Homo sapiens: one gene and its partners. The protein of the gene in region 3 interacts with the protein of the main gene of each other region in a biochemical or structural test. Each region holds a gene or a part of one and is shown on either strand. Other genes may lie near its edges.

Region 1 (8,038 bases), on a different chromosome or scaffold from region 3:
CTTTGGTGGCTCCCTGCCATGAGAGGGGCAACTCCCCCAGAGAAAGCATTTTTCAAGAGCAAGAAGCCAAAACAAAGTTGTGGGTGTGCACAACTCCCCCTGCTCTGGCCATGGGGCATCTCTGCCTCTCCCTACCTGGATTACTCGGATGGAGATTGGAAGGTCTTTTCACCTTTAACTTGGACATGAAACTGATGTCTGGGGCCTGGAAGAGAGATGAGGGGTTCACAGGGGTGCCTGCCGACCAGCCCAGGAACTCAAATAGGAAACGGATACAATTTGCTCACAGATGGATAGATGGCCCTCTCTCATCTGCACCATCATATTGCCCATTCACACCCATCTACACACTCCCTGCACATCTATGCTGAATCCCATTTGCACAGATATATGGCCTACAGCATTCAGATCAGAAGGCCCGTGGGTAAACAGTCACACTAAGAGATGCTTGCGCTTACACAGCCATTCAAAGCACAATCAGCGCACCCAGCACACCCACTGTCACGCAAAAACTGCGGGACTTTCTGGAGACCAGGCTCACTGCATAAGATCATTTCATTTCTTCAGCTCCTCTAGACTTAGCACCTGTGTCCTCAGCCTCCCCCATCTGGCACAGGCTCCACTTTAAACCCTTGGAGACGTGGTTCTTCCTGGTTCTGCTGCAGGGAAAACCTCTATCCAGCAAAGTGGCTTGTTAGCTGGTGTGGTGAGCACAGGCCAGCATGGAACGCCCCGCATTCCCTGGAATCAGAGGAATCCTCCAAACCGCACGATCTTTCCATCCTCTTCCTTTCCTTCCCTTCCCTTTTTTCTCAGAGGAAATTTACCTATTTGTGCTTCCTCACAGATTGAACTGGATATACTCCCTGCGTGCAAACACAATTAAAGTCTCTCCAAGGAAAACCAAACCTCCTCTGCTTCTCCCTGGGATAACCTCAGAAGAGTTGTTTGTTGTGCAGGAAAGATTATTTGTCCAGGAAAGATTATTCGAGTTCTATGCCTCCCCTCCACAACCCACAAAAAGTCCATCTAGTCTCCTTCCAATGGGAACTGAAATAAGGACTGGGTCCCCCGGCAGGTGTCCCAGGGCTCTGGGCCGACTGGCCTAGCCAAGGACCGCTTGGCAGTGCAGGGCTGCCTCCCGCCGCAGACCCGTGGCCCCTCGGCAGGCCGGGCACAGCGGGGCGCCCGGCACAGCTGGCTCCCTTTCTTCCCTCGCCCTTTTGTCCCGGGCGGGACTGCGGCATCACTAGGGGCCCTGTCTGTCAATGGCCGCCCCTTCCCTTCGCTCCAGGCCGCTGTCACACGGGGCTGCCCGGCCACCCATCCTTCCTCCTCGGACCACGCCTGTGGGGGCTGGGCGTAGATGGGAGTTGTCTTAGTAAGCCGGCTTTGTCTGTGAAGTTCATCTTCAAGGTTGGGAGGGTCTTCTGAGAACTGGAGAGAGACCTGGGCTAGGAGTGCTTGGGTCGTGAGGAGAGGGGTGCTGGGAGAAACCTCTGAAGGGAGACTGAAACAACACTGGCTTTTTGCAAGCTTTCAGGTTCCAGGGCACTCGCCACTTTTTCCAAAGCCATCAGTCTGCGGGTTCCCATGGCCACTGTCTTTCCGATTCCCTCAGCCTGCCGCCTCTCCGCGTATGTGTTTGGGGCCTTTTCTTTAACTGTCAGTCTTTGTGACTCTGGGTCTTCCATTTCTGTTTCTCTCCCTGTCGCCCCTTAACGTGCACTTACCAAGTCTCAAAGAGACTTAGGAGGGGAATTATGAGGGCAATGAGGAAGGGGAGGGGGTAATGAGGAAAAACTTTCCCTTCCTTCTCTCGAAACTTCCTCCCGTCAAGAAACAAAAGCACAATCCCCTTTCCCGGGCTTCCGGGCGCTTGAAAACTAAACGCCCTCCTTAGCTGATCCTGAGAAAAAGCATGGCGCAGGACTCAGACTCCAGCCTGCCCGCGGAAGCCGTGCTAAGAATGGGGAGAGGGTGTGTGGAGCCTGGGTCTCTCCCCCACTGCGATCCTCCGACCCTGGGCATCTGGGAACTTGGCCTCCACTCCCAGCCCTGCCGGCGCACGCCACAGAGGAAGGCACTCTCTGTCCCCCAGTCCGCCCTGGCAACGCGGGGCTGAGTCAGGCGGCGGCCCTGGCTAATTTTTATTGATTGCAGCGGTCAGTCAACTGTCAGGCGGGGTTTCAAGGGACCGTTTAGAGAGCGTGTGGGGGTCTGGTTAACAAATTCATTTAGGGAGCCGCGGGCCGGCTCCTCCTTCCTCTCTCCCTCCCTCCCGTCCCCCGCCCCCTTGCCCAAGTTTCCTATAAATAATTGATCGACGCCGAGAGTAGCAGCCAAAACGCCAGCCCGGGAGGACGCACTCCCCGCAGTATTGGGGTAGACCAGGCGCGCAGCCCCGCAGCCGGGCTCTCCCGGGACTCACAGGCCGTCCGTGCCCGGCCTCCATAGCGCAAAGAAGGCGCGGGCTTCGCATCTAGCCGGCATCCGGGGTGCGCACCGAGGGGGCGCTGTCGGCAAAGCCTGAGCGGCTCCCAGCTGCCCCGCAGCATGAGAGTTTCTCCGCTGGAGTTCTGGTCGCCTGCTCCGGCGGCGGGAGCGAACCACTGGCCCGCACACCGGAGCGTGGGAAAACCCGGGCTGGGGCCTCGCAGCCCAGGGAAGTTCCCTACCTTTGTCGCCCAGGATGCCGTCGATGCTGTGTTTGGCCTTCTTTTCGCCGTCGTCCTCCTTCTTGTCCGCTTCATCCTCCTCCTCTTTCTTCCCGAACTTGATTCTGAGCACGCGGCTAATCGAACTCACTAAACCTCAGAAATTCAAAGGCAAAAGAGCAAGTATAAGTTGTTGGAGCAGAGGAGCGAGCGGTGGCCTGGGCCCCTGGGAGAAAGTCAGGAAGCCCCCTGCTTCCTTACAGATATCCATTCATCCCTCTTCCACACACAGGCATTTAGGCATTGACACGTACTCCATAACCAGCATCCACTTGGAGAAGCCTGACTCACACCCCGGGCACTCACAGGGTGGTTAGACTGTGCATTTCTATGCAGATGCTTGCATGCATTCGTGCCTTACACTAACACCTGCCTAGGTGCACTTCCACCCACACCCCCGAGAGGTCCCAGGGCCTCTCTGGAGTCTCTCCAGCTCCTGCTGCCACTCCCACACTCAGGTGTGCATTCTGGCCCTGCGTGCCTGAATGCACATGTACACACACACACACACATACACACACACACACAACAGATCACTTTCTCTCTCACAGGCAGTATGGTTTGGGACCTCCAAATTTAGGACTCAAATGGCTGGTGTTGGCGACAGCAGAAATCATAACTCTGAGACGGTGGTCTAGGGAAGCCCATGGGCATCCACCCTCCTAGGACAGATCCATCTATTGAAGCCATTTTCTCCGAAAAAGCCTCCAGGGGGGCTCTCTTATCATCCAGCTTTCTAGGTTAACTTTTTGCCCATTCCTGCCTGCCCACCTGCCTGCCTGCTTTCCTTCCTTCCTTCCTTCTTTCCTTCCTTCCTTCCTACCTTCCTTCCTTCCTTCTTCCTCCCTTTCTTATTTCTCTCTCCTTTCTTAACTTTTTTTCTTTCCCTATTCCTTCTTTCCATCTTATTCCATTCTGTTTTGATTTACTCCTATGCCTTAACTCTGCCTTTCTGTACTCCTTTCCTCCCAACTTCTCAGTAAGTTCACAGTCAGCCATCATCTCCTCTCCCCTCTCTCCCACCTCCAGCCCTCCACACTGGACCCCTGGCCACACTCTGGGCCAGCTCTGCCGGCTCAGCTGCCTTCTCACCTGAGGGCACAGTGCTTCGGTCACAGTGCCCATCCTTCAGCAGCCTGTCCCGGATCTCCCAGCTGAACATGCCTGGGTTTTCCCTCTTGTACTCCTCAATCTTTTTCTCTACATCCGGAGTCGCCACCTGCTTCAGAGGTGGAGGTGGGAGAGTAGGAGTGGAAAGATGGGATGGGGGGAGGAAAATACTTTTAATATCACCTCTTAAGAGCCCCAGACCAGGCTGGTGGTTCTGGTTACCTTGTGTCCCCCCATCCCCCAAGAGATTGGCTTTATCCTTTCAAGAAACCGGTTCCTGGCTCCCAGGAAGGCAGCTGGGGGTCTGGCCAGGTGGGGTGGGGTGGGACATGGATAGGCAATAAAAAACTCTAATTAGGACCCCCAGGGTCCCCGTCATTATCTCAGGAAAGACTGAGAGAAGATGTCTTCTGGTCTTGGAAGGTGACAGGGGTTGAGGCAAATGTGGGGACAGTCCAGGAATGGCTCATTGGCCTCAAGGTCTTGCACAACCTAGACCTCACTTAGCTCCATCTCTGAGAAATTCAAATAATAGGAAAACAATGGGAGGACATCTGGGAGTAGAAGACACCCTCCAGCTGTACTTTCCTACAGCCTGGTGCCACGAGGTAGTAAGAGGGGCCACAACCAGGAGCCCCCGACTATAGGAAGCCAGCTGCCAGCCTCTGTGGCAAAGACACTCACTCTGGGCTTGCTGCCGCCGATGGCCCCAGGCCGGATGGACCCGGTCTCCTGGTAGCGGCAAAGAATCTTGGAGACGCAGCCGTGGGAGACACGCAGCTGTCGGGAGATGACACAGGGCCGGATGCCATGGTGGGCCATCTCCACTATCTTGTGGCGGATGTGGTTAGGCAGGGGTCGCCCATTGATGAAGACCCCTCCCAGCTGATTGACCCGGCCTTGGCCAAGCGGGGTGGACACTGGAGAAGGGAGGGGAGATGCAGAAGGAGAGAGGTGCAGGGTGAGGATGGAGAGCAGACACTGAGTACACTCCCTGACTCCAGTTTTGTTTGTTTGAGCCCCAAGACCTCAGACAGCAATCCCGGTGGTCCTCACACTGGGGCTTCGGTAGGTAGGTAGTTTGAGAAACAACTGTCATAAATCTAGGAAATCTCCTGCAGAGATGGATAGAGGAGTCACAGCTGCAAGAGTCTCCCCAGATGCTGTGTCCCCCAACTCCTGCCACACTACGAGGGATGAGGACACACCTGGGGGATTCGAATGCTGCTAAGAAGGGGAGGGAGAGAGATGAAGATGAGACTGCAGACAGAGCCACCAGGCTGGTAGAGCCTTAGAGATCTTGGGACCAATGACTATCTGTCCCTCAGGCCGAAGCTTGGGCTGCAGGCCTGCCTGCGTCTTGGAGAGGCCAATAACGGGTGTGATGTGGCTCATCTGCTCAGTTCTACGCTCCTGGTAGTCATGAATGATCCAGTTTGTTGGGGGCTAGAAAGGCCTGGCTGATTACTACATTTACAGCTCTGGCTAGAGCCGTGGAACTGTCCCAGGGAACAGCTGAGGCACAGCCGAGGGACGGGTGACATATGCTGTTGGCTGCTGCCTCCAAGGGCACCTGGTTGTCCCTTGGGTGACTCTCCTTGCTTCTAACCACCCTCGAAGTCCTAATTTCGTTTTGGGACAATTTTAGGACACTACTGCCCCAAAGCTCCTAAATTAAATAGTCGACTTGGCCTCACAAATCCATGAACTGTGCCTGCAGGCTCTGCGAGGCTGGTAGGCAGATGGGACACAGTCCCCCCGGGTGGGGGTGACTTTGGGAACCGGGAAGACAGGCATCACTGGTGTGTGCTGGGGAGGGGAGAACGCCTGGTTGCCTTAATGCAAAGTCTACACAATTTCCTCACAGAAGATTGGGGGGACACCCAGCGCACTAATCCGGCCTCGATCCCCCCAATTTGGGGACTCAGCGGCTGCGGAGATCTGGAAGATTAGAACGATTTCACAGCCGCGGGAGTGGAGGGAGCTGACTGTAATTGAAAGGGAGGAGGCGAGAAGAGGCTCCGCTGCTGGGCCGTTCCTACCGCCCCCTCCCTCGCTCTCCCGGTCCCCCCACCTCTCTTTGTAAAAGTCGGTGTCTGAAGCCACTCTCGGATTTAATCAGAAATCGTGCGTCGCAAAGTCGGAGTCACTCGGTCTCCGTGGCGGGATATGCCATTAGCGCTCAAGAGCTCTCGAGCGCCCAACTTTATATTCAAGAGCCTCTTTAGCGACCGGCACTCGGCTCTCCTCAGTATTCTGCGTCATGTTGGGCAAATATTGTTCTAATCCGCCGCGCGTCCTCAGCCGCCTGTTTTACTTGCATTCGCTACAGGAGAGTGCCACTGCAAATCCCCGGGTTTGCGCGCTCTCCCGCCTGCGTGGCTGCCGGCGCGCACTTGATCACGGAGCCGCTCTCTTCGCCTCTGTCTAATTCAGGGACCCGGCGCCGTCTCGCTGCCCAAGGGAGCTCCTCCCGGATCGCAGGCTGCCAGCCCACCCACCCCCTCCCTGCCTCCTCTCCCCTTCCTCACGCGCCAGGGACTCAAACGATCACAGGAAGAGTAATTTAAAAAAAAAAAGTCGCACATATTTCTAATGACTTCTCTGTGACACCCTAGGCTACCTACCCTCAGAAGCCAAATGATCCCTCAGTGACAGGTTGAGGCCTTCCATTAGTTTAAAAAGAAAACAGAACAAAAACACAGGAGCGGGTCTCTCCGCTGTGCGCTCCCAGCCTTTTCTCCAGCCAGGACCCGGTTCGCCGCCGCCCGTCCTATCGGGTCTCCCCGGGCGGGCGCTGGATGTTTAGGAAGGACGCTTTACAAAATCAGCTCTTTCTTCTCGTTTGGACATTGCCGTGCCCCTCTCGCCGTTTAGAGGTTCTCTAAACCTCGCCGTTTAGAGGTTCTCTCCCGGGAGATTTCCAGAGTGCGGAAGCCCGAGTAAAAAGTTTTAGGGGGAAAATCATTACTAATTATTATTTCCAATTAGTTTGTTTCCAGGCGGAAAAGCAGGAGTGTTTGACTGTGGCTTCGGAAGAAATGGATAGCCGTGGTAGTTGAGGCATATAAAGTATCACCCATGGTAGGTGGTTCGAAATAAAGGACTGGAAGACCAATCCCGGGGGTGGAAAAAATAATTCAAAACAAGAGTAGAAAGCTGGCAGCCAGCGAGCCAGGAGAGCCGAGAAACTGTCAGGGAAGAAGTGTCTGGAAATAGTGGAAAGAGCTGAAATTCACCAGGACCTGATATTTACTAGGAGTCCAAATCTACCAGAATTTCAGCCCTGCGGGTAAAGACCGGCAGCTAGCGACCTGCGAAACGAAGGCCGCCGGGCAGTGAAACCCACGCAGAAGCGGACAAGTATGGGTCCCAGAAACTCCCTGGGTTCCGCGCCCGGACTGGGACCCAGAAGAGAACGGGATCCCTCTGCTATCGCCGGCGCCGCCACCGTCCCCTGGAGACCGCAGCCTCTCCAAGGACCCCGAGTTCCGGGCGGCGGAGTCGCGGCGAGGCCAGCCTGGGCGTTCTTACCTTCCAAAGGGAATCCCGTGCGGGGGTAGTTCTGCCCCGGAGCCGGCCGCATCATTCTCGGTACCGTGCCGGGAAGGGCCGCCATTCTTGCGCACGCCGGGGACGAATCCAAAGTCGGCAAAAATCGCTTCCCGTCCGCTCCCTTCACCCCTGCTGCGATCTCTTTCTTTCCGTCTTCTTCGTCTTCTTTTTTTTAACCTCTTCTCCCTCCCCTCCACACACACTCCCTACCCCCACCCCCCACCCCTGGCTGCAGTCAAACGCGTCCAGAAGCTGGGGAGGGGGGTGAGGTGGGGTGGAGGTTGGGGGGAGGGAAGGTGGCGACGACGAGGAAGTTCAAACAAACAAACACTCCAACCCCAAGTCCGCCTCTGCCGGCTGGCCTCGGCCAGAAGTTGTGCGGGCTGATGCGCCTGGCAGAACCCGGAGACCAGGCCCCGCGGCGGAGGGGGGCCGGGGGAACGCGGCCGGAATCGAGGCCGCCAGCCTCAGAGTGGCGAGCGCCGCGCTCTCGCGCTCTGGCGCTCTGGCGCTCGGGGCCAAAGTTTCCGAGCCCGGAGACTGCGGAGTGGATTTCGTTCTCGTATTTATTTATATATTTATTCTCTCGCTCTCGCTCCCTCCCTCTTCTCCACGCCTTCTTTCTCCGGACCACACTCGCTTCTCCCTCCACACCA
Region 2 (8,038 bases), on a different chromosome or scaffold from region 3:
ACCTTATGTTCTCTTTCTCTCTCCGAGGTTACAAAAATAAAAACACTGACCAAATTTTGAGGTTAAAAACAATATAGGTATTTCCCTGTAATATAATTGGCTTTTCTTTGAAATTATATGCTGACAAATGCATGACATATGCTGATACAGCAATGACAGGTCTGCCCCCCAAAATATATGTAAAACTGGTATGGAAAAGAACAAATGAACAGTTACATTCCTCTAGTTTCTTAAGGAGTCTACAGTCACATGTTTAAGATGAGAAAAATAATAATTTCCTTTGAATTTTCCCCCTAATATTTAAAGTTATCCAAAGAGTCCCATGGACAGTCACATTTCAATCAGTAAGATTCACAGATGATAAAACACAATTCAAGAGTTAACAACGATAGCTTTGGAAGCTGCATTCACTCCTCCAGCCTTATGTGACCCCTTAGAATGGCTTCAGCAGATTAAATTGCTTCCAAGATACTTGAGTTTAGGCAAAGAGAAAATAAGGAGAACCAGTAGAACTCTGACAGTAGGTTTTCACTGGGTATTATCACAAAATAAGTAGATGTATTTTGATAGTATCCAAAACTTTAAAAATACTTTGGGGACTTGTAGAGACTGTATTATCAACAAAAGCACTGCTTTTCTTTTCTTGCTTTGTATTCATTCCTCATCTTTTCTTTATTTTTAAATTTGGAGACACAGGAATCAAACAAAATTGCCCAAACTTGAAGACCTCTATAGCAGCACATTCAAAACATAGCATACCTGTTGGTGAAGTTTCTCAATATTTTTCATTAATAACATGCTCTTTGATTTAATGAAAAGTAGAAAATATTTCACATACAAGCATGATTGAATTTAGGTAATGACAGCAACAAAAACTTTGATGTGTTAATGCTGATTACTGTGGGTATATTTTATCATGCTAATACAACTTAAAATTTATGAAATGTGTTATTACCCGTAATTGTCTTTTATTGACAAAATAAGTGCAAATATATGGCAACATCTTCCTAAAATGGGTTTGTAACTAGCAAGTGATCATTTGCACATCTGCCTTTTCTTGTTCTTACACCTTACAGCAACATAAGCAATAAAATGAACATTATGTGTCTTCATCAAATCTAAACAAGCTCTTTAAATGTACATAGGCTAGGTTTATCTTAGCTAAGTGGAGCTGAAAATAGAAGAAAATGTTTGCAACATTAGACCCAGAAAAATGCAAATTGAATCCAATTGAGTAAAATTCAGTTTTGATAGAATTACGTGTTTCAACGTTCAGGTTTGTTTAGTCCCTTGATTAGTATAGACCTGGTCTTAAAAGTAGAATTGGCCCAAGGCACAGAGTAAACAGTTGTGTATATTGGAGGATTCAAGGGGACCCCCTCTCAAAGTATGCATCTCACTGGTTTGCCTTTGTGCACTCTTCTCTATATGCAGGGAACTTCCCTGTAGTAGTAACAAAGTTGAGGGCGGTACTGCCAAAGGAATGCTTAAAATGCATGGATGCCACCTGACAGTAGAGAGATGTTCCCGGTCAGGGTATTGTATAAGAAGAACAGCACTTCCTTCTTTTTCCCTCTTTGCTACGCTATTAAAAATCAGAGTATCAATTTAATTTCTTCTCACTGTGGATGTTTAGAATGTTCAGAGATGATACAGAAAACAGAAGTCTGAAGGCCTATGAGAAGGGAGCATAAAGCTGTGCAGCTGGTTTCTAGTTAGGTTATAGAGAGTGGGCCCGACACTTGACTATGTAGTACATAGCACTAGGGAGAAGGGTTCCAAAATGTAAGAAACTATCGTGGAAATGTCCTCTGAGCCATGTATTCTGGTGAGGGCTTGACAAATAGAAACTTAAAAAATGAGCCAATAGAAACAAATTTCTGAAAAAGTTCATTTTGGGTACAAGAAATAGGGAAGTGAGGCCGCATGCAGTAACTCACGCCTATAAAACTAGCACTTTGGGAGGCTGAGGTGGGAGGATCACTTGAGCCCAGGAGTTTGAGACCAGCCTGGACACCATAGTAAGTAAGTCCTCATCTCAAAAAAAAAAAACAAAATTGCTGGGCATGTTGGCATGCACCTATAATCCCAGCTACTTGGGAGGCTAAAGTGGGAGGATCACTTGAGCCTGGGAAGCTAAGCATTTTGAGCATTTGCTTTAGAATCATGCCATCTCGAATTTAATTCTTGCCTCTGACACTTAGAGCCCTGTGACCTGGGGAAAATGCTTCAAAACTCCTGAGGCTCAGGCTCTTTCTCTGCAATGGGACTTATCCTAGGTTGACTAGGAATTAAATGAGACGATTTCTGCAAAGCACTCAGCAGAGTGCTTGGCACATGGGGACTGCTCAGTATATGTGACCTCTTATTGTAATGATGAGGTATGAGGTGGCTGTCTAGTCTATTTTTTAGCAGTTTTAATTGGCACTACCTAGACACTTTCTTGCATTATTAGAATATGTATGAACAATTTTCACAAACCATCAGAATCTCCACTCAGATTGAAATCCATCATTGCATGGCTAAATTTTCCTTCTTCATTCTGTTTAACTGCCAGTTGCTGAGTCAGACTCTCCAGTGTTGTTTTTTCCTTTAAAAAAATTATAATGAGAGATCAGTCTAGGAATTAAAATTATTTGAAGACTTTCTTTTTTTGGGCCACATATATAATACATTAACTCCTGGAAAGGATGCAATGTTGATATATTCACCTTTTTACGTTCAGCACATTAACCTGAAGTCATTAAGGGGATGATCAGCACGATTTTTGAAGGAACTCTGATTCTCATAGACCCCTATAAAGTCTTGGCGTTTGGGTTTGGTATGCCTAAGGGATATATGCCGGGATCCTTGGAGACAACCTTCCCAAATTACAAAATGTGCACAGAAATTTCATGGAAGCAACCTGTTTTACATTTGGAATGTCTGCTTTATTTTTGGCCAGACAGTAGAAGTATAGGAGTGGCGTGAAGCCCAGAGAAAGTCTTCCAATAGTCAGGTGACCAAATAATAGAAACATAATTCACAGTAGTGCCCTCTGGTTGCCATCTTCCCAAATGCCATCTGCATTCCTCATGCAAGGGTAATGAAGACGTTTAAATATTCATTGCTAATTGCTTGTCAAGTCTCTGTACATCCAATGTGAGTGCCTGCTACTTGGACCACAATTTGATTTGGATTGCTAAGCCAAAATATTGAGTTGGCGAATTATTTGAGATACAAATATACCAAAATTAGATCTACAGAGACATCAAGTTGTTTAAGCATGCAGTGCACGATTCACATTCATGGAGAACATAGCATTTCAAAATAAATTATTTTTAAGAAAAATATAATGCTTAATCTAAACCATATGAGACATTACTGTCAAATTAAGAAACTGGGTGACTTTAGGAACAGAAAAAGCATATAATGAAACTTGATAACTTTCTCGTGAACTCTCCAGCACTGCTCTGAGGATGATGTAGTACCAAACAGCACCAAAACAGTTTTAAGAAATGCATCCATTGGATCTCATAACATTATCTCAAGTTTCTTTATAATTATTCACCTCATTTTCTGAGGAACATAGTCATGAATCATACTAGTGAACGACATACACTGCAGAACTGCTATTGACACAATAAAATGTTCACAGAAAGTAATCAATGATGTAAGATAATTGTATTACAGGTAAAGGGCCCAACTAATGTTCCCACCAAGAACTAATGAGATATTGAAATTCTTAACACAGTACATGCTTTATCTCAATGAAGTCTCTGACAATGTGACAACTGTACATACTAAATTAAAAAATCTCTTAAGTCAGTGGCCTTGGAACTCCTGTACTCTATTCATCAAATTATGTACATTATTTAATAGAAAACTATTTTTAAATTGTCAATCAGTATAAAATACAGTAGAGAAACTGGAGACAAAATAGTTTATATTAACTTTAGTTCTATAGAATTAAATAGTATTAAAGTTGAAATAAGTTACGCATTTAAAACTGTAGAATCTGACTCGATTTGTTTTGTGTGTGAAGTTGTTGTTTTCAGCTGCTTCATATGTTTTGGATGTCTTTTGCTGAGAGAGTCGGCTGTATATATTCAGCTGAGCTCAGGAGCATCAAGGACACCAGCTTAACAGACTTTCTTTACAGTAAATGTAGCTGTTAAAACAAAAGACAGTTACATTTGAAAACACACGCACACATACACACATTCCATCAACATGATCTGATAGTCCTCGGGTCAATGAAGACTTTACTGTACTCTCTTTGAGGAATGTACGGGGCTTGGATCACCTCTTAGCTTTTGATTTAACAGTATAGGGCAATAATACTACACATTTTCTAGAGAGTTTTCCATTCTGAAGCAAAGTCTTTCAAGAAGAAAAAGCAAAATTAATCAAAGTAGAAAAAGAACGACACGTTAAGTGACTTCCAAGGTTCTGAGTTCAGCTCTACAGATGCTGTGCTGTCTTACCAAGAGACTAAAATTAACAAATATGAGCAGGAAAGTCACACTCAGTTTTTACAATAAGTAACCTATAATTATCCACCACTAATGCACCCAATATTAATAAAATGATTCAGTTAGCTACCCAAAAGTAAAACTTACTATGCTTCTCAAGAGGACGTCAGTGGGACATAGTGGAAGTCAACACAGTAAGCTGTACTTTCTCGTAACCCTTTGTATAGTAATTTAAGCTAACAGACATGAGAACAGGCAAAAGGAAAGGTGATTGCAGGAAATGGAGAATGTGAGGTATGCCTTTAATTAAAACAGATTATAACAGCATGCAAATCAAAAGGATAACGTTGCCACATTTTTTTTAAAAAAAGTGTGGACAATAAATTCAGAAGAAAAAGAAACTGATGTGAGGAGACAATAACTTAAGTAAAAAATAATTGTCCTATAATTCCATATGACAACTGATCCTATAAAGCTGACACATAGTACTTATGTATAAAAGTAGATATAAATTTATATGTGGTTAGGTGTCTAGGTAATATATTGAACCACCAAAAGAATGAATGGGATTTAAGAATAGTTCTCAAAAGTTTAAATTCAATTGAATGGCATATAGGAGGGGAAAGACTCAGCCAAATGTTATAAAGCAGAAGTGCTGACACACTAGAAAAATCTCTCCTACTCTATCCTTTTAATCCCACCTGTCTCCAGCCATCCCCTCTCTGAAAGAGTTCACCTATGCACTATCATGTATAAAGCTCAACCATTTGAGGTTCTGTTCTGTGGGTTAAATATTTCCTTTTCTAAAAGTGTTTTTTCATAAGAGCAAATACTACTGGAAAAGGTAATATTTTGATTCTCAAATTTCTTATAAATAAATTACTCTTTTCTAAATAGAGGCAGATGGAACAAAACAAGGACAGTAGATTTCAGGTAAGCAGAGGGTTAAGTGGGAAGATGTTGAAAATGGGAAACACCAAAGAAACTGATTTTGGGAAAACAAATAAATGTTGATGGGCACAAGTGACAATTTTTTACCGATCTTATAATCTGATAAAAATCATGTTGGTGATATAGATCTTATAATCTGATAAAAATCACGGCTCTGATAAAAATCATGTTACTCAAGAGTTTCTGCAGAAAAATAGCATCCCATTCCCCCATTTAAAGGTCACCATTCTGGAACACAAATCCAGCACAGCACTTAGGAATGCTGATATGAAAATGACAAGATTGATTGGTCTTCTCTCCTTTACCTTCTTTTTACATTTTTATACATTTAAAGGAATACTCGCCAGAATTCTAAATGCGCTGAATGATGTCAGAATAGAGGGCAAAAAGAGATTAATTACAACAAAGTAGTCAACATGTAAAAGTCCTGGGGTATGGGCCAAACAAGATGACCTGTATGCTTTCTCTCTTGAATAAAAACTAGCAATGGGATAACAACTAGATTCCTTTGCAAAGATGAGTCTTATCTGCCTAATCACATCTTTACAACTCTGCAGGTTTGCTGAGATCAAGGAGAAACATTAGGTTAAGTCTGTTTAAAAACAGACTTGAAAAAATCTTCTGATTTTATGTTGACTTGAAACAAGATCGAAGTGAATTGTATCTCATCGACAGAAGACAGTTGTAGACCACATGGTTTCCTGGGTGCAAATGAGTAACTCCAAAATCTGACATACAGAAAACTATTATTAACGTATTAGTATTCACTTGGGGAACTTGGTAGCTGGTCTTGTGCTCTGTGACTTATCCAGAGACTTGCATAATGCAAAACAGCATGTGTACTGTTTGCACATAATCCCAGGCTATGGTGGGAATCTAAAAGGGGAGCCAAGAAATAGCTAAAGAGATATGGACACTTTGTTGATTGGAGGTGGTCAGTATCAATTCATACTTCTAAGCCAAAAACCATTCTGAATGGCGAAAGGCCACAGGGATTCATGGGAAGAGGACACTTTTGAGGTTAGAAAATAATGAGTTTTGGCATCAGGAATATCATATTTTAATCAAACTCTCTGCCGTATATATTAGCCATACTGCTTTAGACAAATATGTTATCCTCCTCGAGTCCCAGAATCCTAATTTGTAAAATGATAGTTAAACATGTGTTAGATTCTCATTAGTTTGAAAATTTTAAGATAGATATACTTTTAATATTATTTTTAAAATGTCAGTGGGGAAAATTGAAAAGACAGGGAATCTAACATGTGAGAATTACAGAAATAGTTAAATTTCAGTATTAAGTAGCCTGTTATGATTATAAACTCTATTCTGTATAACCAAATATGCACTAAAAAAGGGAATTTTAGTAACAACTCTAAATATTCTCAGAAATTTCCCCTCTTTGTCTATCATTTACAATATATTCAATCATTGTTTTTTATTTCAATTTCATACTCAGGCATGATGAGTTACAGTTCCAGACTGTAAGTCTAGTACATATTTAAACTGAAAAATTTTCCCTGCTCCATTATTTTGACTTAAAAAAAATAAAAAACAACTGAAAATTCACTATTTTTGCAAAGGTTCTAATAGGCATCCTATGTTGATATTTTACAGAGCAGTCAAAACAAAAGAACACACAAACTGTACTTTAGAGGTAGATATTTCCTTAGTTACCTAATCCTAAATTAAACAGTGCGTGAGTAGATAAGTCATCTATTACTCCCTGAAACTGGGATTCAGCTAAGTGATGAGCTTCGCTCTCCACCAGACACACATACACAAAGAGATAGGCTATGGATCAGCTATCATAATGGACATCCCTGAAATAAAGCTCACAAAGCTATAAAAGTCATAAAAAGCACATGCATGAAATGACAGAATAGAGTGTGACTGTCAAATGTTGACTCAGTAACAGTTAAACCTCTTCTGGCTGCACTTCTTTATGGTCTTCTACTATATTAACGACACGGGAAGAAAGAAACAAAAAACCCTCCAATTATGTGAACCTCACAGACCACCAAAGAAGATGAAAGATTACTTATAATGTCATAACGATTTATCAGTTGGAGATTTTTTTCATCAGCTTAAGTGTAAAGAAATAAGGCGCATGTCCACTCTTTAACCTCTCGTTTCACTCTTGCTTATTAATATCTCAATTTTTTTAGAAAATAATCATCTACCCACATAATATAACACCGAAAATGGGAGAAAAGGGTTTCTTGTAAGTTATGTATAAATGATATATAAACTATATGTGTGTGCACACACATACACACTCACACAAATACACACTTTCCTCTAACTCTAACAAAAGTACATGTTGAAGAGATCTGTCACTAATTTTACCTCCATCAAGTATGAATTTATCCGTGAGAATAGCCATAGACCCTTTGGTATTCTGGAATTTAATAATCCTTGAAGAAAATTTTTCTATTCATTTTCTCCATTGAGAATTATAGTGAGATATGAACTCAGGGGATGGAAAGGTCCATATACATCCTCTGGTCTAGGTATCCACAAAATCTGCCTTATCTAATACTGATTTTTTTTTTTCCCTTTCTGAATTCCCTCATGAATTGAAACCCATAATTTTGTTCCAGAATCTAATTTCCTTTTGTAAAATTTGGTAG
Region 3 (8,038 bases):
ATGTGCATGTACCTGTGTGCTTGGTGGCATGTGCGGGTGTATCGGTGCTCATGTGTGTGTTTTGGGCACTGACATTATGACTGAGTGTGTGTGCTGTGTGTTTCTAGCTGTGCCTGTGGGGCTGCATTTGACGGTGGCAGAGCCTGTGTCTGTGCTGTGTGCTTCATGGCATGTGATCGTGTGACTGCGCGTGTCCCGTGTGTCTGCACCCACATGCACGTCCCTGAGTGTGTAATGCCGCATCGATGTGTTCGGGTGTGGCCGGGTGCCTCAAGGTGTCTGTGAGTGAGGGCAAGATTCTTTGTATGGGGACGCCTGTGTCTGTTTGATTGAGGGAGGTGCAGCATGCCAGTGTGTGTCAGCGTGATTCTTTGTGCCCGCATGTGCCAGTGAGAGTGTGTGACTTTGTGTGAGATGGACCCGGAATAAACCCCCCCCCAACTCCCCAAGATGATTCGACCGAAGCCGATATTTGGACGGAACCACCTGGATAATTTGGAACCCATCCCTAGCTCCTGCCTGCCTTGGACTAAAAGGCCCAGGGGGGTCGGGTGCACCTCCATGCTGTCCTTTCCTCCAGCTTGGCTCACACAGATTCAGGTGGGGACAGACAGATCCCCGCTCTTGCCCGATCTGTGCCAGGAAGGCTGGCACTGAGCTTCAGCTGAGGGGGCAGGGTCCTTGGCGATGGTGGTGGGCACTGCCCCCTGCCCACTGCTGGCCACCACCCCCGGCTCCCCTCAGGGTGGGGCCCAGTGGGGGGAGAGCTCCCCAGTGCAACCCCGGCTTCCGATTGGCTGCAGAGCGCCGCAGTGCCCGCTACCCGCCTCCCCTCCCTGGCTGGCGCAGCCACATCGGTAGTGGTGGCAAACGCAACTTGGAGTTCTGGGCACAGCTGCGCCTCACAGAGGCCTGCCAGCCCCACCAGAAGCCAGACACCCCAGCTCCGTGCCCCCGACCCCTCCCTGCCCGCCCGCCCCGCCGGGCAGCTCAGTCACCCTGCCCATTGCCTCCCTCTGGCTGCCAGGCCCTGTCCACCCTGTTCCCTCACCCGCCAGGCCTGTGCCCCCCTGGCCAAGCCCACTCAGGGGGCCCAGGCCCCTGCACGAGGCCACTCCCGCCCTCAGAGGGGCTCCTCGGGAGGGGGGAGGTGGTGAGGAAGGGGGGGTTGGGGAGCTAGCCCTTCTTCCTTTAGTGAACGCGCCCAGAGCTGGAGCCAAAAATCGAGGAGGAGAGATATTCAGACGGAGCCAAGACGCGTTTGGCAGGAGGAGAGAGAGAGGGAGAGAGGGAGCGGGAGGAGGGGAGGAGGGGAGGAGAGAGGGAGGAAAGAGAGAGAGAGAAAGGGGGAAAGAAGGGGGGACCTCAGTTTCCAAATCCGCGCCCTCAGAGCCTCGGAGGGATGGCGGGTGGCCCAGGGGTGTGGGGCCCAGGGCCTGCCTGGCTGTGGGGGCAGCGGGGATAGTGGGCTCAGGCCCACGGAGACAGCCGGACACCCAGCTGGCCAGGCTAGAACGGACACAGGCAGAAGCCAAGATCAATGTGCGCCGGGCAGACAGAGGGAGGCCTGTGGGCGGCCCGAACACACGCCCGCACCTCGCTGCCGCACAACGGGCTTCTGTCCACGCCAGGCCAGGGGCACGGGCGGGGCCCCCAGCAAGGCCACTGCGGCCGCTCAACCTCATGGGAAGGGACTGAGCAGCCAGCCCGCTCCCAGCCGCTTGCCCGGCCGCCATAGCAGGCATCTCACATGGTGCTCGGAGGCCAAGGGAATGCCCAGGAGAGGCGCCCGTGGGGTGAGACCCACAGTGATTGTCACGGGGACAAGCTCAGGAGGCACAGTGATATGAGGGTGATGACACTGGAGACACGTGCGTTGACACGTATGTGGACACAAGTTGACACGGACAGGCCAACACGTGTGTGAGACACACGGATACACTCTTTGCCGTGACGCACAGACACCCAGAAAAACACTGCTGTAGATGTGACGCATGTCGCTGGGACACTGTCACCCCAGATACAAAGCGCAGATACAAAGATGGTGACCGGTACACCAATACCCGTTGACGTGCGCAGCGCCACCGTGACACAGAGACTACATCCGGCACACTGACACGCATGGTGGCACGCTCCCCGACCCCCACTACCAAATACACAAGAGACAGGGCGTGCGATGATCCGTGGAGTCACATGCAGGTAGCACCCAGTGATGGACGCTGGGAGACATGGAGAGGCATGGAGAGGGACCCGGGCAGACACACGCTGCCACACAGACATCCTCGGGAAAATGGTGGCTCTGAGGCCTGACATGCCGATTAACATGCACACCGATCTGGGAGAACCCAGATAGTGGCTCACAGCTGTCCTCCTGGCCCACTTGCCCCCACATCCAGGGCTTTGGGGGCAAGAAAATTAAGACACCCCCCTCCTTTTCCCCACCCCAGCTGGGAGGGAGGGGACAGAAGGCCCATTCTCAGCACCGTGTTGGAGAAAGTGCCCAGCCTCCCCTACCTCTCTGGTCCAGCAAGTCCCCAGATTCCAGCTTCATGGGGGTGGGGGAGACAATATCTCAGCAGATTTAAAAGGCCAGGCTCCCTGTGGGTTAGATGGGGAGGACGGCAGTCAACACACCAACCACGGGGGCATTTTGCCCACAGCCACGGCGCCACGGCCAAACACCCAGCATTGCTCCCACCCGCAATGTGCCCTGATCCAGCCAAGTGCCCACCATAGGGTCCTGCACATATGTCCTGTCTCCATGGCGGGTCCAGGTGACAACGCCCAGGTGCAGACACAGAAAGTTCTGGAGCTTGGGGACGTCCCTGAAGTCATCATCTAGATGCACCGGGTCTCTTTGTCCCACATACATTTGGATGAATGCGTGCACACATACTCTTATACCAGGACTCAGGGCCCCCAACCAGGGTATCTGGTCCTCATGGAACAGTGGAGGCCTCGTCTCTCCCCTCCTGCCCCCCACTCTCCCCCACCATCTCTCCCCTATCTTGAAGTTGTGCCACCCTCTGCTTGGCCTACAGGCCCCCATCCAAAGGTAAAAGAGCTGGGCCATGTGCAAACTCTCATCCTTCCAAACTCTCCTCTTGCCTCCTCCTCCTCCAGGCAGTCCACTTGGATATCTATGGTTGGGAGGTGCTCGATCCTGTCTTCTACCCCTCAGAGGCATCCCTCTCTCAGCTGGGAGGGTCTGGGAGGTTGACAACCAACAATTGGCAACAATTACCATTTATGGAGCACACACTATGTGCCAGGCACCACATTGAACCTAAGTACAGCCCAAGAGATAGACACTGGTTTTTGCCCATTTTACAGGCCAGGAAAATCCTGTGCTTCAGGTCGCAAGATTAGAACATGTAGAGCTGGAGCTCGAACCCATTTCTGTCTGACGGCAAAGCCTAGCCCTTGACTCCGCTCCCGCAGCCTCCGTCTGGGAGCTCTTGAGGCTACACAAGACATTCCAGGCCCTAGAGAGACTGGAGCACCCTGTTCCCGGCAGAGCCCTCGGCTCTGAGCTCGGCCCAGCATCAAAACATCTCACGGAGCCCCAGCTCATCTCATGAGCTACCCCATCCCGGCCCACACCTGGGCACACCTCCCACCCCAGCAGTGGGCATGAATCAGGCAGGGCCAGAGCCGGAGAGAAAATGCCAAGTGCCATGAAAACAGGGCACCAGGCCGGAGCAGGGACAGAGAGCTATAGCTTCGCAGGGACAGAGGGGTGGCCAGAGTGACCCAGAGAGAAAGCTGGGGGAAGGGGGCATCAGGGAAGCCCCAGCCATCCCCCTCCCATGGAAGGAGTGTTGGGGGAGCTATGCAGATACAGAAGTACAGGAACGTTCGGCTGCTTGTATGGCCAGGAAAATGGGCGTAGGTCGCTGCGTGTCTGAGAGCGGGTGTATCCGTGTGTGCGGCCATGTATGTCTTTGTGTGTGTCAGCAAATGTCGGCATGTTTGCCTTTTTATCCCTGTGGCAAGGAGGGGGAAGCACGCATTGGTGCATATTTGTGTGTGTGTGTGTGTGTGTGTGTGTGTTTGAAAAGGTATTTGTGGCCGGGTGCAGTGGCTCATGCCTGTAATCCCAGCACTTTGGGAGGCCGAGGCAGGTGGATCACGAGGTCAGAAGTTCAAGACCAGCCGGGCCAAGATGGTGAAACCCCATCTTCACTAAAAAATACAGAAATTACCCGGGCGTGGTGGCGGGCACCTGTAATCCCAGCTACTCGGGAAGCTGAGGCAGAGAATTGCTTGAACCCGGGAGGCAGAGGTTACAGTGAGCCGAGATCACGCCACTGCACTCCAACCTGGGCGACAGAGCAAGGCTCCGTCTCAAAAAAAAAAAAAATAGAAAAAGAAAAGTTATTTGTGTACACACCTGAGCGAGCCAACTGCATTATGTCTCTGTGTAAAGATGTGTATCCATCCATCCGCCTGTCCGTCCTTGGGTCCATGTGAGCATGTGTGGGGGTGAACACACATTTGTGTCTACCTGTATCCAAGCATGTGCTCAGGGCTCCATGAGTCTGGGAGGTGTCGTGGTCTCCATGTGCCTTCGTCGCTATCTGTATCATCTCGAGGGGTTTGTGAGTGTTTATGTGTGCGCTGGGGGTGGTTGTGAACACAAGTCCACAGTTTCCTGTGTCCATACGTGCGTCAAAGAGGTACTGCTGTGTCGCTAAGCCTACACCAATATACGTGTCCCATTTCAAGAGGTGCGTGTGTGTTAATGGGTGTGTGTGACAGTGTGAACACAAGTCGTCGGTTTCCTGTGTCCGTAGGTCTGTAGGCTCGTCGATGGTCGTGGGTCTGGACATCGGTGTGAACAGGACACTTACATCCCCATCTTGGCGGTGATGGTGGTGTACGTGAGTTCACATCCTGGTTGTGTCTCTGTTTCTTGGCAGGGTTGGGATGGGGATGGGGGTCCATCCATCCACCCCCCACCCCTCTCTCCGCCTGAGACTCAGGACTGTGGCTACAATGGACTCCAGCAGCTCCAGGAACCGCCCCACCCGGCCGCCCTGAATTTCGATGCTTTTTCTAGAAGGAGATTTTTCCCCCCGCCCTTCCCCCTCGCCCACAGTACCTTTCCCCGCCAGGGCCCCGCTGCTCCAAGCTCGTTCCTGCTCAATCATTTATTGACTTTAAAATCGAAGCCAATTCTGGTTTGAAAAAAAGAAAAGGGAGAGAGAGAGAGGGAAAGAGAGAGAGGCAGGCCAGAGAGACAGAGAGAGAGAGAGTCCGAGACGCCAGTGGAGGGGGGAGCAGAGATGGGGCCAAAACTGGAATCAGAGACAGAGACAGTCAGAGACATACAAAAGGACAGAGATGGAGAAAGAGAGATGGAAAAGGGCAGAATACACCAGAGACCGATAAAAACAGACCGAGAAAAAGACAGCAAAGGAAAGAGGTTGTCATAAAAACAGAGACCAGCGGGGCAAACCATGGAAGCAGAAAGATTTGTAAAAACAGAGATGTGATTGTTAGGGAGGGGCAGGCCAGACCCCACTGACCAGCCGACAGCAGCCACCTGCCCAGAGCTGAAGGGTTTCCCTGCCCACCATGAAGGGCTGGCAGCCTGGAGACACCATGCCCACTCCCCTCTCCAGCCATCCTGGCACACTGGAACTGTCGTAACCTGGGCCTACAATCACACAGAGCCAAGCACCGGCCATCGCCCTGGGTCTCGCAGCCGCCCCAGCCCCTTCCTAGCCATGTCACCGGCGTATCCACAGGCATTTTCTCTCCCAGGGTGCTGTGAAATCTGAGGGGCTGGTGTCTCACCCAAGCCATGGGGGAGCAGGCTCAGATGTCTGGCGTGCTTGGCATGGGAGGCCGGGCTGGCAGCCTGGTGGGCAAGGGGCTGCTTGAGCGTGGGGTCTTGGTTCCACTAGGCCCCAAACATCGGCCACACAGCCCAGCCAAGTGTAGCACCAAAGAGGCCCAGCTCAGACACCGCTGGGTAGGCAGTTGTTGTGAGGGGCGCCCAACATGGAGTGGCCGTGGAACTGGAGGTGCAGATGTGGGGGTTCCCCACACTGCCATGGTGCTCAGGGTGCCTGCTCACACCTGCATGCACACTGCAACATGTATGCATGCCGGTGCGCCCTCGCCAACACGTACTTGGGCCTGCTTTCTACAGGAAAACCCGCTCCCTGGGCCACACACACGGCCATGCCACGCAGGCCTGCCCATGGCCGGCCCACAGGGGCTACACACAGACTCTAGATTGATTCACACTTGCATACACTCTCACCTGTGCATACAGGAGTGTGGTGTAGCCACAGCTGACACACACCCCGACAAACCCCTCGCCCCTTGACACCACTGCACACTCCCGGTAGGACCCAGACAAAGTAGGAGCCATACCCATGTGGACTGCCACTGTAAGCTGTGGACACACTTGGCACATGGCTGACAAGGATCAGGCTGGGCAGAGGGGACAATTAGGGCCTGGCCTAGAGAACCCCCACATGCAGGCCTGGCTGGCAGCAGGGCTAAGCAGCCCCTAGATGTCCCCTCTTCGGAGACTGTTACCAGCTGTGGCTTGGCCCTGCAGGCAACGCTGTCAGGGCCACTGTGGGACTCTGGGCAGCTTCTGTGCCCTCTTAGAGCCTCAGGCCACAGCCCAGGGAGAGTTGGGTGGCCCGACAGGCATCCTCGAAGCTTTTGCCGCAGCCGTGCGCCGCGCAGGGAACTTCGCTGCAGGCGGGACGCGCTCTAGCAACGCGCCAAGGTCGGCGCTGTTGTGCCCGAGGCTGACCCGACGGTGTGGCCGCAGCACTGTCGGCTGTGTCCACGGCTGCCTCCCGCCCCTCCCGCCTCCAGGCGACGGGACGGGATTCCCCAGGCCTGCCGGGTCCACTCCGCAGCAGCCCGGGTCGCTGGGGCCAGAAAGTTTGCGCCGAGGAAAGTTTGGGGGTGGGGGGGCAGAGGCTGCGACGTCCGGGGTCGGAGAGGCGCGGCCACCGCTGGCAGCGCGCCCGCCCCCCTCTCCCCTCCCCTGCCCCTCCGAAATTTGGGAGCCCCGCCATTTTCTTAGCCCCGCTCCCATGTGAGGCCTAAACAAAGACTTTGGGGAGACGCCCGGGCCGCTCGGCCCACCCCAGGCACCCCGGCCGCACGCAAGGGCCGCCGCCACGCACGCCGGCCACTGCCACCCTCGGGAACCGCTGCGCCCTCCCCAGGAAGCGTCGCGGGACCCAGTGTCCCCTCTGCGCCCTCGGGACCACCCTCTTGCCACTCTGTCAACCCCGCAAACACTGCCAGCGACCACGCTGCCCGGGTGCGCGCTACAGTAGCCCACAGGTCAGCCGGAGTCCCGCTGCCCATCGCACCCCAGTCGAGCGCGCACACACACACACACACACACACACACACGTACACGCACTCCCGCCTGCGCTCCACGGGCAGCGCCACGACGCAGCTGGCCACCCCCGGAACCCCCAAAAGGAGTCCGCCCGGTGGCCAGGGTCGCACGCGCACGGTGACGCCCGCACGCGTGCCTGGGCTCCCCGCGGCACAGCCTGCACCCCTCGGCGGCCCGCGGGCTCTCGGCCCCCCCTTCCCGGCCGCCGCGCGTCCCCTCCGCCCGCGCCGCCGGCCGGCCTCCCGCGCCCGCTCCCCTCCCCCGGTCGCGCGGGGGCGGCGGCCGGTACCTGGGTGAGGCAGTACGGGGAGTACATAGCTGGGCGCCCGGGCGGGAGCGCGGCGGCCGGCCGCGGCGAGGGGAGGCCCGGCAGGCGGCGGCCGCGCTCGGGCTCGGGCTCCGGCTCGGCTCCTCCGGCCTCCGCCGCGCTGCGCCCGCCCGGCCCGCGGCCCCGCGCTCGGCCCGGCGCCGCTCCGCGCTCGCCGCTCGCAAGCTCGGCCCCGCCGGCTCCGGGGCCGCCGCTGCCGCCGCCGCCGCCGCGCTCGCCGCTGCCTCTCGCGTCCGCCGCCGCCGCCGCTGCCGCCGCGCGTCTACTCCATGCCGCCGCCGCTCGGCCGGTCACCCTCGCCCGCCGCCGCCGCCGCCGCAGCC
Region 4 (8,038 bases), on a different chromosome or scaffold from region 3:
ACCAGCCGCCCGTCCTCCATGAGGTAGAATTCGTCCCCCGTGGCCAGCTGCCGGTTGCAGATGATGCAAGCAAAGCAGTGCAGGTGGTAGACAAAGTCCTGGGCCTTGCGGACCACCTGGGTTGGGGGGATACCCTGCTGGCAGGCCGTGCATTTTGTGCCGAAGCGCCTGTCAGGGCAGCAGGAAAGGATTAGGGCACACAGGGAGCAAGGGATCTGGCTTCCCCCAACTTCCTGGAGCAGCCTCCCTCCTACCCCACCACTCCGGGACTCCATGAGCCTCACCCCCCAGTCACCCAGAGCTTACCGTCTGGTCCTCTCTGCCTCCATCTAGCTTCATTGCTTTGTGCCTGGGACTCTTCAACCACCAAAGAAGGGACTGATGAGAACTAGAGTCTCCCTCAGGTACCTTTTCCAAAGCTGATGCCCCCGGATTCCAGCTGCCCGATTAACACCCATCAATTCACAGGGGGAGCAGGTGGACTTTCTAAGTCCCTCAAAGCAGGCTGTCTCCCCCTCCACCTCCCAGCTTCCTCACCCTTATGGTTGATCCCAGAGGACATCCTCACAGGGAACTGTGTGTGCCACAGGCTGTGTGTAGAAAGCACCCAGCAACACCTTTTCACACACTCCCAGGGAGGAGGCCCTGCCTGGCCAGGGGACAGCACGCTGCAGAGAAAATGCACTTTGTCAGCAGAGCAAGGCTGTCCTGACAGCTGTTCTCTCTCCTTTGCCTCCATTTCTCCCCTCACCTCCATTCTGCACACACAAAGCCCTCCAAGCCTACCTCCATCCCCTTCCTATGCACGCACACAGCCTGGGGCATGGTGGTTTGGGAAGGGCCCAGGAAGCTGCACTTTTCAGCCCCTACAGCATTCGGGACAAGGAGTCTGCAGATTACAGTTTGGAAAATGCTGCTTCAGACCTCTCCTTGGTCAGCACCTTTCCAGAACAACACCGAGGCAAAAGGAAGCTACCTGCTGCCACCAAGGCAGCTTCTACCAAGCAAGCCACCCCCTGCCAAGGCCGGGAAGGAAGGAGAAATTGACACTTAAAAGTATCGTCCAGTGGGGTTGTTTCCACTCCCTTTCCCCATTCTGGTCATAGAGATCAACAGAGGCACACCGATGGTCATAGGAGACGAGGGAAATTTGGGGGCCGACAGGGACAGTGAAGGAGGGTGCGTGGCTGCAGGTGAGCCTTCCCCGCTTCAGGAGGGAGGCGGGAGGCATTGGGAAAGCAAGGGCAGAGTTTAAAACAGCAATCAACCTAATTATTCATGACATTTCACACAGCAGAACTTTATCTTCTTCAGGATGAAAGACTTCGCCTAATGGATCTGGGGAAGGTTTGATTTTAATGGTCCTTTTAACTAATGCTTATAGGCAGCCTGATTTCCCCTGAAAGGACAGTACATATTTCATCCACATTAATACCAAATAAATTAATTATGGTCATGGCTATCATGATGAATACCAGATTAATGCAGAATGATAGGTCTGTTATGCAGTAATGATACCTGCTGAGGGGGTTATGGGGGCCCGGAATAGGCATGGCCAGCAGCAGCCTCAGACGCCCCCCACCAGGGACACAGCATCCCAGAGAAAAGTGGGGGTTCTCTAAGTCTGCATGGGTAATCCTGAAAGACCCAGAGTGTACTTCAGGGAACACTCTTCTGAGATGGGTATAAGAAGGGTGTTGGGGTGTGAGGGGCTGAGAGGTGGTGGCTTGGGAGGACCCCAGGCTTCTGAATTCCTGGAATGCCTCTTGGTTTTCAGAGAGATGGGGCCCATTTAGAGCAGGAGTTCTCTGCGTGAGGGTCAGCATAGGCCTGTAAACCACCTGCTAAGTTGTTCAAAATTGTGCCTCAGGAGGGGACCTGGGTTTTCATCAGATTCTTAAAGGGATTCAGGACCCAGGAAAGTAGAGTTAATATTTGTTGAATAAATAAATCAGCAGATAAAGCACCATACTTGTAGAGGATGTGCACGGAGATGGCCGAACCTGAGGATGTAGAACAAAGCACACAGTCGGCTCTGGATGGTTCTAGACCTCCCAGAACACAGGTGAGAACCAGGTCCTCCACAACTGCTGTGTAACCACATCACCTGGATCAAAGAGGAAGGCTGGCAGGCACCCACCTCTACTGTGTGTGTGTGTGTGTGTGTGTGTGTGTGTGTGTTATGTGTGTGTGTATAACAGAGAAAGGAAGCCTACACATGTGTTACTAGAGAGTGTTTTCAAAAGGCCTGTATATTTAATATCCAATCCCAGCCAATTTGCAAAGCAGGTACTGAAATGAAACAAGGCACCAGGTGTGGTGGCTCACGCCTGTAATCCCAGCACTTTGGGAGGCTGAGGCAGGAGGATCACTTGAGCCCAGCCTGGGCAATATGGTGAATCCCTGCCTCTACAAAAAATGCAAAAAATTAGCCGGGTGTAGTGGTGTGCACCTGTAGTCCCAGCTACCTGGGAGGCTGAGATGGGAGGATCACCTGAGCCCAGGGAGGTTGAGGCTACAGTGAGCCAAGATCACGCCACTGCACTCCAGCCTGGGCAACAGAGCGAGACCCTGTCTCTAAATTAATTAATTAAAATGAAACAAGGCTTTCATCATGCTTGTTGCGAACCCTCCCAACAAACCACGCAAATCTGGAGAATGTGTCCTAACCAGAGATCCAAGGAGAGGAGGGCTGAGAGGAGACCCCGGAACAGAGGGAAGACCCTTCAGCAGCCTCCTCCACAGGGGCCACACTCTCTCCCACTAAAAAGCAGGCAGGGGGCTTTCAGTCACCGGAGGCCCAGCTGACACCAGCACACCAGAGACATGAAAGATAACGGGGGTATAAATTTAATCTACATACCGACAGTGATTCATGCATGAGGGTGGCAAGTGCACAAGAAAAATGAAAAATAAGTGGACTTCCCCACCAGCGTTTTTTAGCAATTGAAGCAATTTTCCTGATTGTGGGATTTATACTGAAGGGAAGTGGAAGTGGCTCCTCATTACCTTTTCCCCTGGAGCACAGCCAGCGGGACCCTTGCCGAGGGAGCCGCATGCAGCACCTCCTTGGCCCACAAGGCTCCCCCGGCCCAGCCCAGCCCTGCAGATCACCCTCCACCCCATCTCCAGTCAGAGCCAGTGTATCTAGAATACAGGGCATCCTACAGGGGTGTGTCTGTGATGGAGACACTGTCCCCATTCCCAGATCTTAGAATAGCCAGAGTCACAGGTGAGAAGGCCAAAGCCTGGCAGGTCACATGACTTGCCCTGCGACAGGCAATAATGAGACACACGGTCATGCCTAGAATTCCCTGGCCCCACACGAGGTAAAACTGTGAACCCGGCTGCTACACAGAGAACCAGAAGTCTAACCAACTGGACCAAATATGAAGGACGCTGGGGTAAAGAGGGAAAGGCTGGACTCCAGCCAAGGAAGAGGGCTCCCAAGGGCTTTTCCAAGCAGCACCCCTTAACACCGATCACCGGGCACCCATGCAGGGGCACCAAGGGCACTGGCCTCACCCTTCAGAAAGATAAGCCTGCTGCCCAGTCCTGCTAGCCAGGCCTCTGGGGACAACCAGTCCCCCCAGGAGAGCAGCTGGAGCTGATCCAAAACCACAGAGAAAATGCAAGGAAGACTTGCTAATGGCTCATATTATTTTCATCCTCTAACCAACACCACTGGAAATTGTCTTATCCCTGCCCAGCACATAGTAGGCAAGCCACAAAGACCCAATGAATGAATGAATGAATGAACGAATGAGCAAACGAATGAGTGAACGAACGAACTGCTTCTTAAAACATTTGCCTGAGTAGTCAGGGGAGGCTTGGCTCTCCATAATGGCAGCTCTTTTCTTTTCTTTTTTTTTTTTTTTCAAGTTTGGTATTAACTTTGTTCTATTTTTGGTCTAACTTTAAGTACCTAAAGATTTATTTCCACAGGCCTCAGAAAATGGGTAGAAATCACAGGACAATCCCTCTTCCCACCAAAAAAAGTTGCATACTTTGGTAAGTGTTTATCCTAGAGGGAAAAAGCTGAAATTTACATTAGCAGTGCTGTGCAAGATTCTGACATAAATCACGACCTCAAACCAGCCTGCAGTGGAGGTTCTAGTCTTCTGTTCAGGCACTTGGACAGAAGCCATAGCTGATGAGCATGACAGGGAAAAGGAGGCAGTAAAGACAGGTGACAGGCACCTTGTAGGGAAGGAGGATTCAGGAATGCCAGGCTCCTTGGAATGGTGTGCTGTTTTTCCTTTTTTTTTTTTTTTTTTTCCTTTCAAAGTCATCTCTGTAGGAAGGTGCTGGGCAGCGATCCCAGAGAAAGAAAGGTCCAAGACTCCTTTAACTGTCCTGGATGAAGGGCAGTGCTACAGCAGCTAGTACCGGAGACTCTCCTATCTCATGGTTGAGGCAGACCCAGGATAGAATAGAGAATAAAAGGAATGCTTATAGGAAACCATTTTGCATGGAATGCTAGATGGCCAAGCCTCAGCCTTTGGTCCAGTGCAACCCTTGCCTCACTTGTCAACAGTGAAAAATTAGTTTGGTTAGAGGAACCATCTGGAAACACACCAGCTTCTGCTAGCTTCATGTTCATTGCTAGAAAAAGATTAACCAGTGTGAACATTCTGATCTGTTAATTCCTGGGATTGTTTTCTTCCCGAAGGACTGTTTGTTGGTAGGATAACCCCCAAAAGCTCAAAGCTAAAATGCATCATCAGTCCTGGTTGGCAGTTCCTTAAGAATGGACTGGCGGCGTGAGCGAGCTGATATGGACAAGCTGCCCCTTCCTGCAGAACATCAACTGACCTACTATCTCACCCCAAATCTCTGCCTGAGGTATATTTCAGTGAAGGCAGTTAGTTGTGCTTCTCAGAGCAGAGAAGCAGTTTTAAGCTCTTTTCTTTAGGGGTGAGGGGATCTCACTCGGTTGCCCAGGCTGGAGTGCAGTGCCACAATCATAGCTCACTGCACTCGAACTCTCAGTCTTCCCACCTCGGCCTCCTGAGCAGCTAGGATCACAGGCACATGCCACCATGCCCAGCTCATTTTTTAAGACATGTTTTGTAGTGATTGGGTCCTACTATGTTGCCGAGGCTGGCCTTGAATTCCTGGTCTCAAGTGATCCTCCCACCTTGGCCCCCAAAGCACTGGAATTACAGGTGTGAGCCATCCCCTTTGCCTCTGCTGTCATTAGCTTCCCCTCTGCTGGCTCCTTCCATCCATGTACAGGCATGCTATGATCCCTGCCTGCCTCCCTTCTCTACCGCCCACTCCCCGCACCCTTCAGGGCAGCGCCCCACTCATCCAGAGCTGTGCTGCAGCCCAGCGGTCAGCTCCCCTCTCCCCGGCCTCCCGAGCCTCCCGACACACCTGCTCGCCGCCTCCTCCCATCTTGGCCCCCAAAGCACTGGAATTACAGGTGTGAGCCACTGTGCCCAGCCAAAAGCTTTTCTAAGAAGGGCATTAAGTCCCGGGTTGAAATGAGGCCCATGGTTTACTAAACCACAAGACTTTACATCCCACTTGCTGTCGCCATCACACTGCCTCCAGACTGTCTCCTGAGCTCCTAGCCTGAAAGGTGGGTACTGTGACACCTTTTAACAGATAAGAACTGGGGCTCAGAGAGGTGAGGTGCCGACCCCTAGCTCCCAAGGGCAACGAGCGAGAGAACCGGGGTTTGCAGTCGGTGCTTCTGACACAACACAGCGGACATGCGGCGGGCTTCAAGGGCAGCAAACCCGGCCTTGGTGCCCTGACCTAGGCTGGAGCTCGAGGAGAGGGCCTGTCCCCCTCATGTGGCTCTGAGCCCCCTGCATGAGGCTCCCAGCCCTGCAGTGCTGGGGTGGCCAGGGAAGCCCTCACCCCCCAGTGTGTTAACCCCAACACATGTAATTGGCCCGCTGTCCACCTTCCACATCCTCCGGCTGGCCCAGGTGTGGGCAGAGAAGAGCTGAGACTTCTCGGCTGACTCTCATGGGCCACTCTGGACCCCAGGAGAGGACTAGGTCTTGTGTGCTGGGTCCCAGCCTCTGCACCTGAGCTCCGCCTGAGCTCCTGCTGCTGTTGATTTGTCCACCCCTGCTGCTCCCGACCACCTGGCTGGGCTGCTCACCAGTGCAAGACAGGCTTGAGGGTCTGGACCCTGTAGAAAGGGGGCAGCAGGCAGGCCCTGCAGGGACCGAGCCTTCTAGAACCAGGGGTGCATAAATCCTACACCCTGGCTGTCTGGCACATTCCTGATGGTAAGTTCCGACCTCTGAGCAGACCCGCATGATGTACCACAAGTGGGTCACTGAGACGCTGGTAATAAAGGCAGCTGCCATTCTCCTAGCACCAACCTGTGTCCTGTGCAGAGTGGGCCCTGCACATGTGATCTCATCCGACCCTCACCTCCAGCCCTCAGCCCAATGCCCCGGCACTCACCCCGTGGCTGCACTGCCACCCTGCTCCACTTGCTTCCCGCCTGGGTGACTTAACTCAGGCTCACCCTCACTCCCACCACACCCTTGGTGACTGCAGTCCCCACATAGACCATCCTTCCAGGCCCTCCCTCTCAATTCTTTGACCTCCTGAAGGCTGTGGCCTCTACCCTCCCTCCCACCGCTCACTCCCCCAGACCTTGTTGTTACCAGCAACTGCCACAGCTCCAGGGGTCACTTCCAACCCTCCCACCATTGGACCCCGCTGTTCTTCCAGCTCCCCAGGGCACTGACTCACACAACCCAGGGACTGCCCTTCCCCTTGGGCTTGTCACTGTCCCTCGCTTCCCTCCTTCCTTACCCAGCAGACCCCAGGGCGATCCCACCTGTCCCTCCCCACACACCCTGGACCCTGCCCTCTCTCCGCCCTGCGCCTGCCCCACCCCAGCACGGGCATCCACAGAGCCAGGAAAGCAGCCCCTGCCCACCGGACTGATGGTGCCTCGGGGGCCGGGGGTCAGAATGCACCTCCCACCCGCTCCCCCACTGAGCCCCAGGCTCAGCTGCTGGCGCCCTCCCATTTCCCATGGAAGAGGGAAGCCCGGCTTGGACCCTCCCCACCTCCCACTGTGCCTTCCACTCGCACACCCGGGGCCCCAGCCCCTGCCTGCCACCCACAGGTGAACCATGCACCTCCACCAGACACAGCTCATTCCTTCTCACGTAATGAGACTCCCAGCAACCATCCCCTTTGCCTTCTGTGTCATTAGCTTCACCTCTGCTGGCTCCTTCCATCCATGTACAGGCATTCTATGATCCCTGCCTGCCTCCCTTCTATACTGCCCACTTCCTGCACCCTTCAAGGCAGTGCCCTACCCAACCAGAGCTGTGCTGCAGCCCAGCGGTCAGCTCCCCTCTCCCTGGCCTCCCAAGCCTCCCAACACACCTGCTCGCTGCCTCCTACACTGTGCTCTCCGGCCTCTGCTCCTCTGCTCCTGCTCCTCCTCCTCCCACACCTCTTCTCTGCCCACCCCGCTCCCCTGGGGATCTCACCTCCAGCCCAGACCCCTGGGCTCCAGACTGGGGCTCCACTGCCTCTACAGCACATGGATTTGGAGTCCAAAACCAAACTCCTACCAACACCCCCCGCACCCTCTGCTCCTCCCATAGCCCTTCCCATCTCAGACCACTGTAACTTCATTCTTCCCACAGCTCAGGCCAAAACCTTTGGGCATCCGTCCCCATCTGATCTGTCAGCAAATCCTGTTGACTCTACTCAGAATAATAATAATTATTATTACTATCATTATTATTACTATTATTATTTGGAGACAGGGTCTCGCTCTGTTGCCCAGACTGGAGTGCAGTGGTGCAATCACAGCTCACTGCAAGCTTGAATTCCTGGGCTCAAGAGATCCTCCCGCCTCAGCCTCCTGCGTAGGTGAGACAATAGAAGTGAACTACCACGCCCAGCTTCTACTCAAAATTATATCATGTTGGGGACCACTTCTCACACCCACACCGCCTTCCCTAGCTTGGGCTGCCATCAGCCAGCACCTACAGCTGCCTCCTAACAGTCTCCCCGCTTCCGCCCATGCCCCTACAGGCAC

Evidence for each region.
Region 1: the proteins of NFIX (region 3) and PAX7 form a complex in vitro, tested with the Homo sapiens proteins (one study listed by BioGRID).
Region 2: the proteins of NFIX (region 3) and SOX5 form a complex in vitro, tested with the Homo sapiens proteins (one study listed by BioGRID).
Region 4: the proteins of NFIX (region 3) and LHX4 form a complex in vitro, tested with the Homo sapiens proteins (one study listed by BioGRID).

Annotation. Positions count from the first base shown.
Region 1 is NC_000001.11:18,631,012-18,639,049, reverse strand, and holds part of PAX7 (paired box protein Pax-7), read right to left. Parts: 5' UTR 7,447-8,038; coding exon 7,362-7,446; intron 4,748-7,361; coding exon 4,512-4,747; intron 3,940-4,511; coding exon 3,810-3,939; intron 2,814-3,809; coding exon 2,679-2,813; intron 1-2,678. UniProt on the Homo sapiens protein: Transcription factor that is involved in the regulation of muscle stem cells proliferation, playing a role in myogenesis and muscle regeneration.
Region 2 is NC_000012.12:23,543,835-23,551,872, forward strand, and holds part of SOX5 (transcription factor SOX-5), read right to left. Parts: intron 2,591-8,038; coding exon 2,482-2,590; intron 1-2,481.
Region 3 is NC_000019.10:12,995,503-13,003,540, reverse strand, and holds part of NFIX (nuclear factor 1 X-type), read right to left. Parts: 5' UTR 7,704-8,038; coding exon 7,677-7,703; intron 1-7,676.
Region 4 is NC_000001.11:180,258,522-180,266,559, reverse strand, and holds part of LHX4 (LIM/homeobox protein Lhx4), read right to left. Parts: intron 358-8,038; exon of another isoform or gene 330-357; coding exon of another isoform or gene 307-329; intron 169-306; coding exon 1-168. UniProt on the Homo sapiens protein: May play a critical role in the development of respiratory control mechanisms and in the normal growth and maturation of the lung. Binds preferentially to methylated DNA.